2 linked regions of the Homo sapiens genome follow. The protein of the gene in region 2 purifies or fractionates together with the protein of the main gene of each other region. This does not show direct contact. Each region holds a gene or a part of one and is shown on either strand. Other genes may lie near its edges.

The links.
Region 1: the proteins of C6orf89 (region 2) and PTRHD1 purify together in Homo sapiens (affinity purification with mass spectrometry; 3 studies listed by BioGRID and IntAct, with this or other methods). This does not show direct contact.

What each region holds. Positions count from the first base shown.
Region 1 is NC_000002.12:24,790,369-24,797,899, forward strand, and holds the start of PTRHD1 (putative peptidyl-tRNA hydrolase PTRHD1), read right to left. Parts: upstream 3,024-7,531; 5' UTR 3,010-3,023; coding exon 2,758-3,009; intron 2,708-2,757; exon of another isoform or gene 2,318-2,707; intron 2,217-2,317; exon of another isoform or gene 2,016-2,216; intron 1,412-2,015; exon of another isoform or gene 224-1,411; intron 214-223; coding exon 43-213; 3' UTR 1-42. Other genes in the region: CENPO (centromere protein O), read left to right, coding at 3,552-3,597. UniProt on the Homo sapiens protein: As a putative peptidyl-tRNA hydrolase, it might be involved in releasing tRNAs from the ribosome during protein synthesis. Some evidence, however, suggests that it lacks peptidyl-tRNA hydrolase activity.
Region 2 is NC_000006.12:36,895,952-36,902,974, reverse strand, and holds part of C6orf89 (bombesin receptor-activated protein C6orf89), read right to left. Parts: intron 4,869-7,023; exon of another isoform or gene 4,750-4,868; intron 3,550-4,749; coding exon of another isoform or gene 3,531-3,549; coding exon 3,342-3,530; intron 755-3,341; coding exon 541-754; intron 1-540. UniProt on the Homo sapiens protein: Exhibits histone deacetylase (HDAC) enhancer properties. May play a role in cell cycle progression and wound repair of bronchial epithelial cells.

The DNA.
Region 1 (7,531 bases), on a different chromosome or scaffold from region 2:
TGGAATGGGTGGCCTGCGTATTCAAACACATCAAAGCAGCAGTTACTTGAACAATCGGAACTTCTTCAAATACTGGCCCACTTCTTCCTTGGGGTAGGGCCGGAGAGCAATACAAGTGGCGATATTCTCTGGTTGCTCAAGCCACAGCATGTGGTCAATGTTCTTCTGTTGCAGGGTCTCGGCCAGCTCCTTTAGGGTGGTCTCATCTGGGGCCTAAAGGAGAAGAACACAGAACACAAACTGAATAGCCCACTTAGGAAGTGTCAAAAGGCCAAAAAAGGTTTCGGGAGTCCTCTTGCCTGAAAGTGGAGTAACAGCTTTACCAAGGAGGGAGCTGCAGAGCAATGATGTCATTCCGTGGTGCACTGGGGAGGGGAGAGAGGCTTCATATTCCAGTTTAGAAAATGGAGATTTGTATCTTCCCTTGTGAGATGTTGTATGCCCAACACACACATGTGTAATGTGTAATTCTGCTCTATACATTTTCCAGCTCTCCTATGGCTGGCGCCCATAATTTTAAGTGCCTCTGACTTTAAGAGCTGCCTAGTGGAAGTTTTTTTTTTTTTTTCTTTTGAGACAGAGTCTTGCTCTGTCGCCTGGGCTAGAGTGCAGTGGCACGATTATCAGCTCACTGCAGTCTCTGGCTCCCGAGTTCAAGCAATTCTCCTGCCTCAGCCTCCCGAGTAGCTGGGATTACAGGCGCACACCACTACACCTGGCTAATTTTTGTATTTTTAGTAGAGACGGGGTTTCACCATGTTGCCCAGGCTGGTCTGGAGCTCCTGACCTCAAGCAATCCACCCACCTAAGCCTCCCAAAGTGCTAGGATTACAGGAGTGAGCCACCATGCCCGGCCCCTAGTGGAAGGATTTCTAAAAGCACATCCACTTCCACTTTCCTCCACCCCTCCCACTCTACCTCACTGAAACCTAGAGGGGTTTTCCTTCTGCTGGGATGGCTCCCACTTGTTTATTAAAGGGAGAGTACAATATTCTCTAACATCCTTCTGAAATTGTTTCTGGGTCATCCTTACTGCCAATTCACCCATGCTGAATCCCATTCCAGGAAGTATTAAAACGATCACTCAGAAAATTATTATTTTTGTGTTATTTTGCATAAAGTTTATCTCTTACCTATGAAGGCAGAAGCCACTAAGCTACTCAGAGGCTTGTTTTAATAAATTAGAGAATGCCAGTATTGCGACTCTTAACCTGCTGAGTCCTTCTGGCAGAGCTCTGCTGGAGGACTCATCAGCTTCTTCAGCCTCGGGCAGCAGCAGAGCATAGTGAGATACAGTGAGGCTCTGGAATCAGACTACTGGACTCCAAACTCTTGCTGACTGTGTGATCGTGGATAAGTTAGGTGACTTCGCTGGCCTCTTCGTCCCTTTATAAAACAGGAATAATGCTTCCTAATGGGGATCAATGAAATCAGGCTTGGACCTGTGCCTGGCACACACTAAGCACTCAATAAATGTAGTTAATCCTGGTATTTTCTTATATTTTATTGGCCCTTCTGACTACAGCGGCACCTCAATGTAATCAGTAGCGACTCCTAAGTCCCTTTCTTGAGTCATGACTAACAACTAAGAATCATGAGACCCTCTTTTAAACTCAGGGGAGTCACTTAATCCCTGTAGGCTTCAGAGAGTTTCACCTGCGACAAGAGGAGTCTAACCTGATTTCTTGAGACCTCTTACTAGGAAGAAAATCTAAGTGAAAAGCCAGCAGCTTCTGTTCTGCCTACACAGATTCTCAAGGCATTTTTCCTACAGGTTACCGCTTGATGTTTCACTATCCAGCAGCAATTTTTCTCTTGAAAGATAATCTATCTTTGTCAGTTACCCATGAAGGGATTACTCCACCCCTCCACCTGAGTTCTGGCTTAAAGCCGTTTTTCCTTATTATAAAAAGCCGTTTATTATTAAAGCCGTTTTTCCTTATTATAAAATATGTGCTTAAGGTAGAAAATTTTAAAAATACAGATTAAGCATTAGGAAATAACCAAAATCTCACCATGCACTACTTAATATGTAGATGTATTTCTTTAGTTTTTCCTTTCAAAGTCTGGATCATTCTGTATATATAGTTCAGTTAGCTTCGCATCATGAGCACTCTTCCCGACCACTAAATATGCTTCAAAACCATAAGGGCTCCCATGAATATCCTTGTGCAAAGCTCTTTGGGTGCATCTGATTATTTTCTTAGGCTACATCTCTAGCAGCAGGATAGAGAGTCAAAGGGTAAGGGTGAGATTTGTTTGGTCATCTGCAAACAGAACCTGACTGCTATTTTAAAAGGTGTACCGATTTACACACCTGGTGCCTGGTCTAGCTGAAGCTAGGTTCAATTTATACTAACGTTTTTAGTATTTATTTTCAAATAATTTGGCGTCCTACCCAGGTAAATACTCAGTTTGACTTCACTTTGCACTGTCCCTTCGGGCTCGGTTTTGCAGGAGGACAGCACTTTGGGGCATGGCTTTAAAAAGTCGGCCAGTGCACAGGCGGAACAGCGGGGACACAGGAGCCACCACTTTACCGCGAGCCCAGCAGGGGGCGGAGGACTGCTGTCCACTCTTCACACAGTCAGGCCCTTCCCAAGGGCGCACCTCCAGGGAAACAGCTCCAGTCTAAATGTTAACGATCACCCCAACTCCCGCCGCACCCACTCCCCGCAGCCAGGCCTTCGGACCGAAGACCACACCCACTTCCGCCCTCGATGTCTCAGCACCTCCCCCTCCGCCCGAGTGCCTCACCTCGAGGACCACTTTGCGCATGCGCCCCAGCTCTTGGAGGTAAGCGGCTGTGTGCGGGTGGTCGCGGTGAGTGTGCAAGGCCGCGGTGGCCGCGTGACAAGCCTGCGCTACCAGTGCGCCCGCCGGCCAGGAGAACGGAGCTTGTGATAGATCCTTTCGTAACACCAAGTATTGTACCAGGACCTGCGGCTCCGCCCCAGAGGCCGCCATCTTCCTGACCACCCGAAAGGCCGGACCTACTCCCCGGTGCATCTTGGGATCAGGGCGGGGCCCTGAGCGCCGCCATGCTTTTGTACGGCAGGATCGCAAAGCACGCCGGGACCGGTTGGTTTGGTTTTGAAGACGTGGATGGCGGGAATTCTCGCTTCTGGCCTGGGTGAGCTAGAAGGGAGAAGGTAGGGGAAAGACCCATTGTCGGACCGGACCGTGGCCAGGGTGGCGGGCTGAACGGCCTTCTTAAAACTCCTTCCGTGGCCGGGAAGCCCGCTGGACCAGAGTAGCCGTGGCCTCGGGAGCGCGCCGGGGCCGCGGGATGGGCGCGGGGGTGGGCATGGACTCTGCTGGCTCGGACGATGGGAGAGGGCGGGCGGCTCAGGAAAGGGGATCCTAGCCGTGACATTTGTGTCATCCGCGGCCCAGGGGTTGTGCCTGAGTGGTGTGTGCCCTGCCGTCTGGGTTTGAATGGGACTAGATGTGATGTGACTGTTGCCATTTTTCTTTTATTAGCAAGGACATTGGAGTCCCTATCACCGGTTGCCTAGACAACTTCATGGGAAGGCCCTTGGGAATCTGAGATGGAGCAGGCGAACCCTTTACGTCCAGATGGCGAGTCCAAAGGAGGTATTCAGAGGGTCGCCGCCTCCTTCCTGCTGCTGCCCAAAGATGACCCGCAGGCTGAGAGAGCCCTTTCCTCCTGGAACTGACGTGGGACCTGGCCTGTTTGGGAGCAGAATAGTGAAAGGAACTAACATTGAAGACAAAGGGACAGGCAGCCAAGATTATTCGAGGAGGAAAAATGGCTTCGTTTCTAGGCTCCCACCCCTTTTGAAACGGATAAGTTGCATCCATCATATGCTCAGTGTTTATATTCTGAACTGCGGTTCTAGCCAGGGAGGTCCCTTTCCTCTCCCCGGATTTTTTGGGCCATGTATGCATTACTCTTGAGGGAGGGCCAGTGTAGGGCAGTGACTTTAGTGTTGGCTAGAACTGGTTTTGAGTGTTGGCTCTGCCATGATAAATATTGTGACCTTAGGCAAGTCACTTTATTCTCTGCCTCTGTTTCTTCATCTGGAAAATGGAGGTGAAAATAGCACTGTAGTTGTGGTTGTGGAAAAAGTATTTCTTTTGTGGTGGAAAAGTATTGAACTCAGACTTTTCAAGTGAAGCATTTAGCACATGTCTAATATATAGGAAATATTCAATGAAAGGCTTAATTCTTTACATACTTTGTGTCTTAAAATGTAGAAGGTGTTTAAAGAATGCTTGTTAGAGTTGCTTAGAATTACGAAACTATTACTTTTACTTAGTCCTTAGTCAATCCTTTGGAAACTGAGATTTGCGTTTGAATTTCTGTCCAGGAGTAAGTTGCTTTCTTCTTTAGTGCCTAGTAATATTTGTGGACAGTTCTGGTTTTGTGTGACTTTATGTTCTTTGCTACTAATACTTTTTAGAACTTTGAAATACTTACTCAAGCCTGATGCCTAAATCCAAAGGGTTCTACGTTAGTACTTTGGGAAAGCTTGCCATAAAACCTAACTTAAATTACAGTTTTAAAAAGAATTTCTGAGCGCGTCAGTGAATTTGGTTATCCTATTTTTCTCTGGGTCATCATTATCATTGATAACAGAGAAGTAACTATATTCAGCCTAAGATGACTTAAGCTGAGACTTTAGATAATAAAAGTATATGGGGTAAGATTTATTGTTACTTTAAGACTAAAAATAAGTTTGGTGACTTTATGTAGTGGAAACATGCTACACTCAGGAGTAACCTGTTCTCTAGTCCAGGCCTTATTTCATTTCTGTTAAAGTAAGTGATGAGGTGGAAGTTTTGGATTATCAAGAGACTTAGACCAGTCTCCTTATTCTCTACCCAAAACAATATTTAAACACTTAGCTGTTACCCATACTGGTTTTATCCCTCTGCTTGTTTGATTTCAGTTTTTTGCTTATTATTTGAATTCTCCCCACTCATTTGAGAAGGAAGGACATGGAGTTGTAGTTGCAACCAGATGATTTATTCAAATAGGCAGGGATTTTGACTTTTTTTGGGACAAAGCTGACTGGCTAGGATGAGATGCAATCATAACTTCCAAGGTAAAGCAGGCCCAGCAGATACACTCCCTCTTTTCTGTAGTAGCAACGCTAAACAACAACGCTACCCCCTTGGTGTAGAGGGAATCAGGTCGGTAAAGAAGCTGGGCAGGTTTGAGAGCCTGAGAAGAGGGCTGTGTGGAAGTGCCTAGAGAAGGAGCAGCATGATACTGTTTTGAACACCTACTTATCTCAGAAACTTTGGGAATATTGATATCTACTGTTTTAGTAATATAGAATTTCCATAAAGTAGAATTTGGTGAGGCGTCTCCTCTACCACCCTAAATTATTCTATGTGTGCGTGCTTTTCAGATCACCTCCTGGTTGGACATTAATTTTTGTAAGCTCCGTGAGGACAGGGACTTCGTTTTGCCACCACAGTATGAATAACTTCCAGCACGGTCCTTGGTCCATAGTAAATTCTCAATGCATAGTTGTTGGATAAATAGAGATTGGTGAATAAAGCAGTTAATCACGTGCTAATTATTAGGACTAATTTATTTAATTAGAATTTTGGTTTCTCACGATTATTATTGCGGTAATGTGGGTTTTTCTGTGGACATGAGCCAAGTGAATGTAATCTCCAAGAGTGTCATGCCTGGTTGTCCGTGTTTCGGTAAACATTTCCGGAGTGTTGGCCGGGCGCGGTGGCTCACACCTGTAATCCCAGCACTTTGGGAGGCCAAAGCGGGTGGATCACAAGGTCAGGAGTTCAAGACCAGTCTGGCTAACATAGTGAAACCCCATCTCTACTAAAAATACAAAAATTAGCCGGGCATCGTGGTGCATGCCTGTAGTCCCAGCTAATTGGGAGGCTGAAGCAGGAGAATTGCTTGAACCTGGGAGGTAGAGGTTGCAGTGAGCTGAGATCGCGCCACTGCACTCCAGCTTGGGCAACAGAGTGAGATTTCGTCTCAGAAAAAAATAACCATTTCCGGAGTGTTTACCATGTGTAAACACTTTGTGCTAGGGTTAAGGGATCCATGGGTGAACACAAATGCACACGGTCCCTGATTTTGGAACTTTAAGGTTCAGTGGAAAAGATAAGCAAATCAAATAATCACACTAATGAATATACAATTAAAACTATAGTGGCCGGGTGCGGTGGCTCACGCCTGTAATCCTAGCACTTTGGGAAGCCGAGGTGGGAGGATCGCTTGAGCTTAGGAGTTTGAGACCAGCCTGGGAAACATAGTGAGACCCCATCTCTTTATTTAAAAAACAAAAACAAAAAAACTATAGTATTGTCTCAGAAGGATCTTTGAGAGCTTATGAGCTGGCACCTGACCTTGTTCTGAAGGTGCTACAAAGGTTTCCCTGAGGAAATGCTGCTTGCATTGAGTGCTAACGAGCTAGAGTAGCTGCAGGTGAAGGTGGATAAGGGGCGGCTGTGGAAGAGCCTTTGGTGTGTGTGTTGGGGGTGGGGGGATCAGGTCAGTAAAGACGCTGGGCGGGTTTGAGAGCCTGAGAGGAGGCCTGTGTGGAAATGCCTAGAGAAGGAGCAGCATGATACTGATGAGGGTAAGAGAGATCCAGAGGCCAGTAGGCCTCGTAGGCAGTGTGAAGTCATCGAAAGGCTTTAGCCAGCTGGATGACACGATCCAGTTTAGATTTTGAAATATGGCTTCAGTGTATGGGCCACCTAGGAAACTTGTAATAGGCCAGAAATGGTAGTAGCTTGAACTACAATGGTGGCATTGCAGATGGGGAAAATGGAAATATTTTAGAGATACTAGGAATGTATATTCAATAGGATCTGGTAATGGATTGGGACTGGGTCAGGGAGAAGGTGTGAGGAAGAAAGTACTGGTTTACACAGCTATAGATGGATAATGGTTCCAGTCATGGAGGGGTTTAGAAGGGGAGATGATGAATTCAGTCTTGGACATGTTGATTGTCAGGTTCCTGTAAGTCTTCCAAGTAGATACACTGAGAAGGCAGGTGGATATTCTGCTTTCTCAAGAAGCAGGAGAGAGGTATAAGCTAGAGATACATATTTGTGTGGCATCGACATGTATGGCCATTAAGGCTGTGGGTACTGATGAGATTTCTTCTGGAAAGAAGAGGTCTTAGGACTGAGCTCTGGAAAATTTCAGCATTTAATGGTCAAGGAGGAGAGTAGGAGCCTTCAAAGCAGAAAGTGGGGTCAGAGAGGTAAAATGTAAGTGTCACAAAAACAGGTTGTCTGTTGTTCATCACTATGTTCCCAGTGCCTGAAATAGTACTTGGCACAAAATAGATGCTTAATAAACATCTGTTGAACAAGGCATACCAACAGGCCGCTATGCTAAGATTCAGAGGAAAAGAGGGTTTCGTGAAGGTGGTGATCAGTAGGAGCATATAGTGCTGGGAGGTGAGATAAGGGAGCTTGAAAAATGTCCTTTGGGTTCAGCAACATGGATATCACTGTTGATCTTAGAGTGGTTTTGTAAAATAATGGGAACAGAAGTGAGTTTCAAGTG
Region 2 (7,023 bases):
TTCTACTTACTGGCAAAATTGATATACTTTAGAGGACTAAATTAAATGAGCTGTGACAGACAGAAGGACTAAACTGAAAGAGTGGGATATACCCAGACAAAAACCTAGCCCAATAGGCCAAGGACTGTTAGAGGACCTTTAGAAGCAAGCTGAACTCGGTTGCTTTCAATAAACCAATACCTATGTATTAAATATGCATTATGGACAGGAATCACAGGAGAGAAAAGGATGAGATACAATCAAATCCTTTTTATGGGCAAAGACATTTGTCCCCATCATGTGTGTTCTGGAATTTGGGGGTGTGTATTTGGCTCTACCAGATGTTCCTCTAGCGAGTTTCTTAATCTCTCTGACCCTTGGTTTCTTAATCTGTGAAACGGGGATAATAAACCCCATCTCATAGAGTTTTAGTGGGGACTGAATTAAAAGATACAATATAGGGAGCTTGCCTCTCATTAGGTATCAATAAATGTTACTTCCTTTCCTATCATATACTGTCAAGAAAACTATATCTAATAAGTAATAAATGTTGCATTTTACCTGGAAAGGGTCTGTCTTCATCACCCCCATGCAGAGGAACTCCCTTATTTTCTGACATGTACTTCTTGGCAATGGGCAAGGACATCAGCCTAATGTGATGGATGAGTGAGCGCCAGGTGTGAGCTCCAGAAAGCACTGGCTCAGGTGCTAATGGGCTGAAAGGTTGAATCACAAAGTAGGCAGTGAGCAAGATTAATCCCAAGGTTGCGAGAACCTACAAGGAAAGATAGAAAAGGCATTAATCCCAGCAAACAAATACCTTAATACCAAGAAAAAAAACAAAACAAAACAGGCTTCTTCTGCTACTTCCAATGTGCCTTAAGAACTAATCCATTTTCATAAACAAGCCACTTAGGTTTACTTCTGGAAGAATTTAGAATTTGAGAACTATAGGGACTGCAAGGCTCACCAAGCTGCTACCATATAATCAGTGTATTTTAAAATTCACCATTTAAAAATACACAGGCTGGGCATGGTGGCTCTCGCCTGTAATCCCAGCACTTTGGGAGGCCGAGGCGGGCAGATCATGAGGTCAGGAGATCGAGACCATCCTGGCTAACACGGTGAAACCCCGTCTCTACTAAAAATACAAAAAAATTAGCCAGGCATGATGGTGGGCGCCTGTAGTCCCAGCTACTTGGGAGGCTGAGGCCGGAGAATGGCGGGAACCCGGGAGGCGGAGCTTGCAGTGAGCCGAGATCGCGCCACTGCACTCCAGCCTGGGCGACAGAGCGAGAGACTCCGTCTCAAAAAAAAAATAAAAATAAATAAATAAAAATAATAATAATAATACACAAAGGGGGCCGGGCGCAGTGGCTCACGCCTGTAATCCCAGCACTTTGGGAGGCCGAGGCAGGTGGATCACGAGGTCAGGAGATCGAGACCATCCTGGCCAACACGGCGAAACCCTGTCTCTACTAAAAATACAAAAAATTAGCCGGATGTGGTGATGGGCGCCTGTAGTCTCAGCTACTCAGGAGGCTGAGGCAGGAGAATGGTGTGAACCTGGGAGATGGAGCTTGCAGTGAGCCAAGATCGCACCACTGCACTCTAGCCTGGGCAACAGAGTGAGACTGCATCTCAAAAAAAAAAAAAAAAAAAAAAAAAAAAAAATAATAATAATAATAATAATAATAATAATAATACACAAAGGGGCCGGGCGCAGTGGCTCACACCTGTAATTCCAGCACTTTGGGAGGCCAAGGCGGGTGTATCACCTTAGGTCAAGAGTTCGAGACCAGCTTGGCCAACATGGTGAAACCCCACCTCTACCAAAAATACAAGTATTAGGCCAGGCACAGTGGCTCATGCCTGTAATCCCAGCACTTTGGGAGGCTGAGGTGAGTGGATCACCTGAGGTCAGGAGTTCGAGACCAGCTGACCAACATAGTGAAACTCCCATCTCTACTAAAAATACAAAATTAGCCGGGCATGGTTGCGCATGCCTGTAATCCCAGCTACTTGGGAGGCTGAGGCAGGAGAATTGCTTGAACCTGGGAGGCGGAGGTTGCACTGAGCCAAGATCACACCATTGCACTCCAGCCTGGGCAACAAGAGTGAAACTCTGTCTCAAAAAATAAATAAATACATACATAAAGGCTGGCTGCAGTGGCTCACACCTGTAACCCCAGCACTTTGGGAGACTGAGGTGGGCAGTCTCGAACTCAGTCTGACAGTGATTGACTGGACTCAAGTCACTTGAGCCCAGGAGTTCGAGACCAGCCTGGACAACACGGAAAAACCCCCATCTCTACAAAAAATAGAAAAATTAGCCAGGTGTGGTGGCACATGCCTGTGGTCCTAGGTACTTGGGAGGCTGAGATGGGAGGATCACCTGAGTCTGGGAGTTCGAGGCTGCAGTGAGCCATGATGGCACCACTGCACTCCAGCCTGGGCAACACAGTGTGACCTTGACTAGAAAAATAAAAAATCTGTTCAGGTGCGATGACTTAGGCCTGTAATCCCAGCACTTTGGGAAGCCGAGGAGGGCAGATCACCTGAGGTCAGGAGTTCAGGACCAGCCTGACCAACATGGAGAAACCCTGTCTCTACTAAAAATACAAAAATTAGCCAGGTGTGGTGGCACATGGCTGTAATCCCAGCTACTTGGGAGGCTGAGGCAGGAGAATCGTTTGAACCTGGGAGGCGGAGGTTGCAGTGAGCTGAGATCACGCCACTGCACTCCAGCCTGGGCAACAGAGTGTGACTCCATCTCAAAAAAAAAACAACAAAAAAAAACAAAACACAAGGCCAGGCGTGGTGGCTCACGCCTATAATCCAAGCACTTTGGGAGGCTGAGGTGGGCAGATCACCTGAGGTCAGGAGTTCAAGACCAGCCTGACCAACATGGAGAAAACCTGTCTCTACTAAAAATACAAAATTAGCTGGGTGTGGTGGCGCACGCCTGTAATCCCAGCTACCTGGGAGGCTGAGGCAGGAGAATCACTTGAACCCAGGAGGCAGAGGTTGCGGTGAGCCGAGATTGCGCCATTGCACTCCAGCCTAGGCAACAAGAGTGAGACTCCGTCTCAAAACACACACACACAACAAACAAACAAATAATAAAAAATTAAATAATAATATTACACAAATATAATTTAACTGTAAATATGCAGCTTTCATCTAGGACCTTTAACAACACAGTCAAATTTCCTAGTAACACATGGTAACAAGAGCAAAGGCCAATTTATTCACGGAAAAACCAATGCTCAGTGGTGGGATTAGTCAACAATAGCATTTGTGAAGAATGTTGAACAGTTTGTGTTCTGTTGAAGCAATTACCAACTCAGGAAACATTTTACCTTATACACAACTATAAGGAGAGGATACTGCGGGGGGGGTCTCTGAGGTTCATTCTTTTCCAGCAGCTGTCTGATAAATTTTTCAATTGCCTTCTCTGACATGCCACACTGATGGCCGGTCTGTCTCACCAAATCAACAGTCTCTGAAAGTTTGTCATAAATGCTGATCTCGTTGGCAGCAAGATCCATGTCTTCCAATATAAAATCCCTGAGAGAGACGGAGAGAAAATAAATGTAAAAAGAAAGGTGGTTTCTTTAGGTACTTCCTCTTCAAAGCTACTTGACCATCTGTAGAGAAGGACCAGTTTTGTGCTTTCCTCAATCCTCTACAGACCAATACTTTCATGAAACACAATGAATACACAGAGACAATGTCAAATTGCCATACAAGTTTTAAAATATTCGTTAACTGTGGGCCAGGAACAGTTTACAGACCTGCACTAGTTCCCAAACTAGTGCAAACTGAGGAGCACTGGTCTAGAGCACAATATATCCTAATGGGACTCTGAAGCACTAATGACATCCAAAAAAGATTTCTGACACCAATGATGGGAGATCTGCTACTGGAGATTCCTTAAAATAAAAAAAAAATGGATTATGCACAGTGTTGTTTAACGCTGTTGTTGAACATTTGTGTTCAACACAAGAGGAAGAACTGATCACTGAAGATTACTGAAGGTGATTTACTGAGAGCAACAGGCTGATAAGCTTTGTTCTTGGCAGAGCAAAGATTTCAGACAACACAAAAACCATGGCATGTGGCTTGCAGTCCTCACACTTTTCTTTCTTCTTCTTTTTTTTAATTTCTTCTGGAGCAACCAGAGTCCTCATGCTTTTCTACAAATACAATTTTAGAAAATAAAGGGCATTTTATTTGTATTTTATATACTTAAAATACCTAAGATTTTTAACTAATTTAAAAATTCAATTTGTGTTCCTATAGTTATTTTAAAGACAGATTGTTTCATCATGCCCAGAGAACAAAAGGTAAAAACTAATGGGGCAAAGTAGAGTTCTCTCTGTATCATTTGTAAAATGAAATTAAATAGTTCCAAGGCTGGACGCAATAGCTCGTGCCTGTAATCCCAGCACTTCGGGAGGCTGAGGCAGGCGGATCACCTGAGGTCCGGCGTTTAAGACCAGCCTGACCAACACGGAGAAACCCCGCCTCTACTAAAAATACTAAATTAGCCTGGCATGGTGGCGGGTGCCTGTAATCCCAGCTACTCGGGCGGCTGAGGCAGGAGAATCTCTTGAACTCGGGAGGCAGAGGTTGTGGTGAGCCGAGATCACGCCATTGCACTCCAGCCTGGGCAACAAGAGCGAAACTCCATCTCAAAAAAAAAAAAAGAAAAGAAAAGAAAAGAAAAACAAATTTTAAAAATCAGCTTGGCCTGGTGGCACACACCTGTAGTCCCAGCTACCTGGGAAGCTGAGGTGGGAGGACTGCTTGAGCCCAGGAGTTTGAGGCTGCAGTGAGCTATGATCATACCACTGCACTCCAGCCTGGGAGACAGAACGAGATCCCATCTCTAGAGAAATAAAATAAGATAAAATAATTAAATGGCTATTTAAAAAGGTGTTTAAGTTACAGAACAATAATATTTTTCTTCATTTACAGGAGGAAGAAGAGTGCTTCTTCGGGTTTGTGCTCTCTTCTACTGGGCTTTATTTATTTATATATTTATTTTCAATACAGAGGGTCCTTTTATTTTGCATACTTCATTCCTACAGTACTTCTAGCCCCAAAAAGTACTGACATAGTACGTGTATTCTCTCAGTAAGGAGATGCTGCCACCTGTAGGGTGGAGGACATAGTCATGTTGTTACAACACAACCCAGCGCACGCCAGCACACCTCCTCTTCCAGCAGTGTGCCTCCCAATCACTCCTGTTTGGTCCTCTTTACGACTATTAAGTGTTTAGTTCATTAGGTCTTAACCTGGCTTGCACATTAGAATCACCTAGAGAGCGTTTCATAAATGCTCATACCTGGGCATCAACTCAGAGCAATTAAATCAGAATCAGAAGACTTCTAATGGTGGATTAAAAGGCATGCAATCTAGACTTCCAGGAACTGGGGGAATGAGAGAAGAGCCCACCACACTATACCCCCCACATTCAGATAAAAAGACAGTACAAACTACAGTTGAGACTTGAACAACATGGGTTTGAACTATGTGGATACACTTAAAAGCTGATTTTTTTCTACCAACCCAGGATTGAAAATACAGTATTTTCAGGGTGCAAAAACTGCATATACATATACAGAGGGATGATTTTTTGTATAAACAGGTTCTGAAGAATCAACTGTGAAACTTGAATATGCAAGGATTTGGGTGTATATGGAGATTCTGGAACGAATACCCTACATATACCAAGGGACAGCTATATAATTTTTAATGTATTATTTTCAATACATGATGCTAGGACCACTGGATATCCACAAATGAGAAAATGAAGTTGGACCTTTCTTTCTTTTCTTTTTTTTTTTTTTTTTTTTTTGAGACAGAGTCTTGCTCTGGTTGCCCAGGCTGGAGTGCAGTGGCGCGATCTTGGCTCACTGCCACTTCCGCCTCCCGAGTTCAAGCGATTCTCCTGCCTCAGCCTCCCAAGTAGCGGGATTACAGGTACCCACCACCACGCCCAGCAAATTTTTTTGGATTTTTAGTAGAGACGGGGTTTCACCATGTTGGCCAGGCTGGTCTCGAACTCCTGACCTCAGGCAATTCGCCTGCCTCAGCCTCCCAAAGTGCTGGGATTACAGGTGTGAGCCACCATGCCTGTCCCTTTCTTTATACTATACACAAAAATTAACTCAAAATGGATCAAATACCTAAATTTATAAGCTAAAATGATAAAACTTCGAAGAAAACACAGAGAGGGAGGCTTCATGATTCTGGGATTCGGCAATGGTTTCTTAGATATGATACCAAAAGAACAAGTAGCAAAAGAAAAAATAAATTGGACTTCATCAAAATTAAAAACTTTTTGTAGAAGACAAGAGGAGGGGAAAAACCTCAAAAATTCTGTGTCTCAATACCATCAAGAAAGTAAAATGACAAGCCACAGAATGGGAGAAAATTTTTGCAAATTATATATCTGATAAGGGGGTGGTCTATATAGAATACATCAAGAATTATTACAAATCAGTAATAAAAAGACAACCAAATAAAAAAATAGACAAAGGATTTGAATAGCCATTTCTCCAGAAAAGATATACAAATGGACTGGGTGCAGTGGCTCACGTCTGTAATCCCAGCGCTTTGGAAGGCCAAGGTGGCAGATCACTTGAGGTCAGGAGTTCGAGATCAGCCTGGTCAACATGGTGAAACCCTGTCTCTACTAAAAATACAAAAATTAGCCGGGTGTGGTGGCAGGCACCTGTAATCCCAGCTATCTGGGAGGCTGAGGCAGAAGAATCACTTGAATCTGGGAGGCAGAGGTTGCAATGAGCCAAGATTACACCACTGCACTCCAGCCTGGGTGACAGAGTGAGACTCCATCTCAAAAAAAGATATACAAAGGACCAATAAACACACAAAAAGATACTCAACATTATTAACCATCAGAGAAATGCAGATCAAAATCACAGTGAGATATCATTTCACATCCACTGGGATAGCTACAATCAAGAAGTCAGACAAAAAGTGTTGGTAAGGACATGGAGGAATTGAAACATA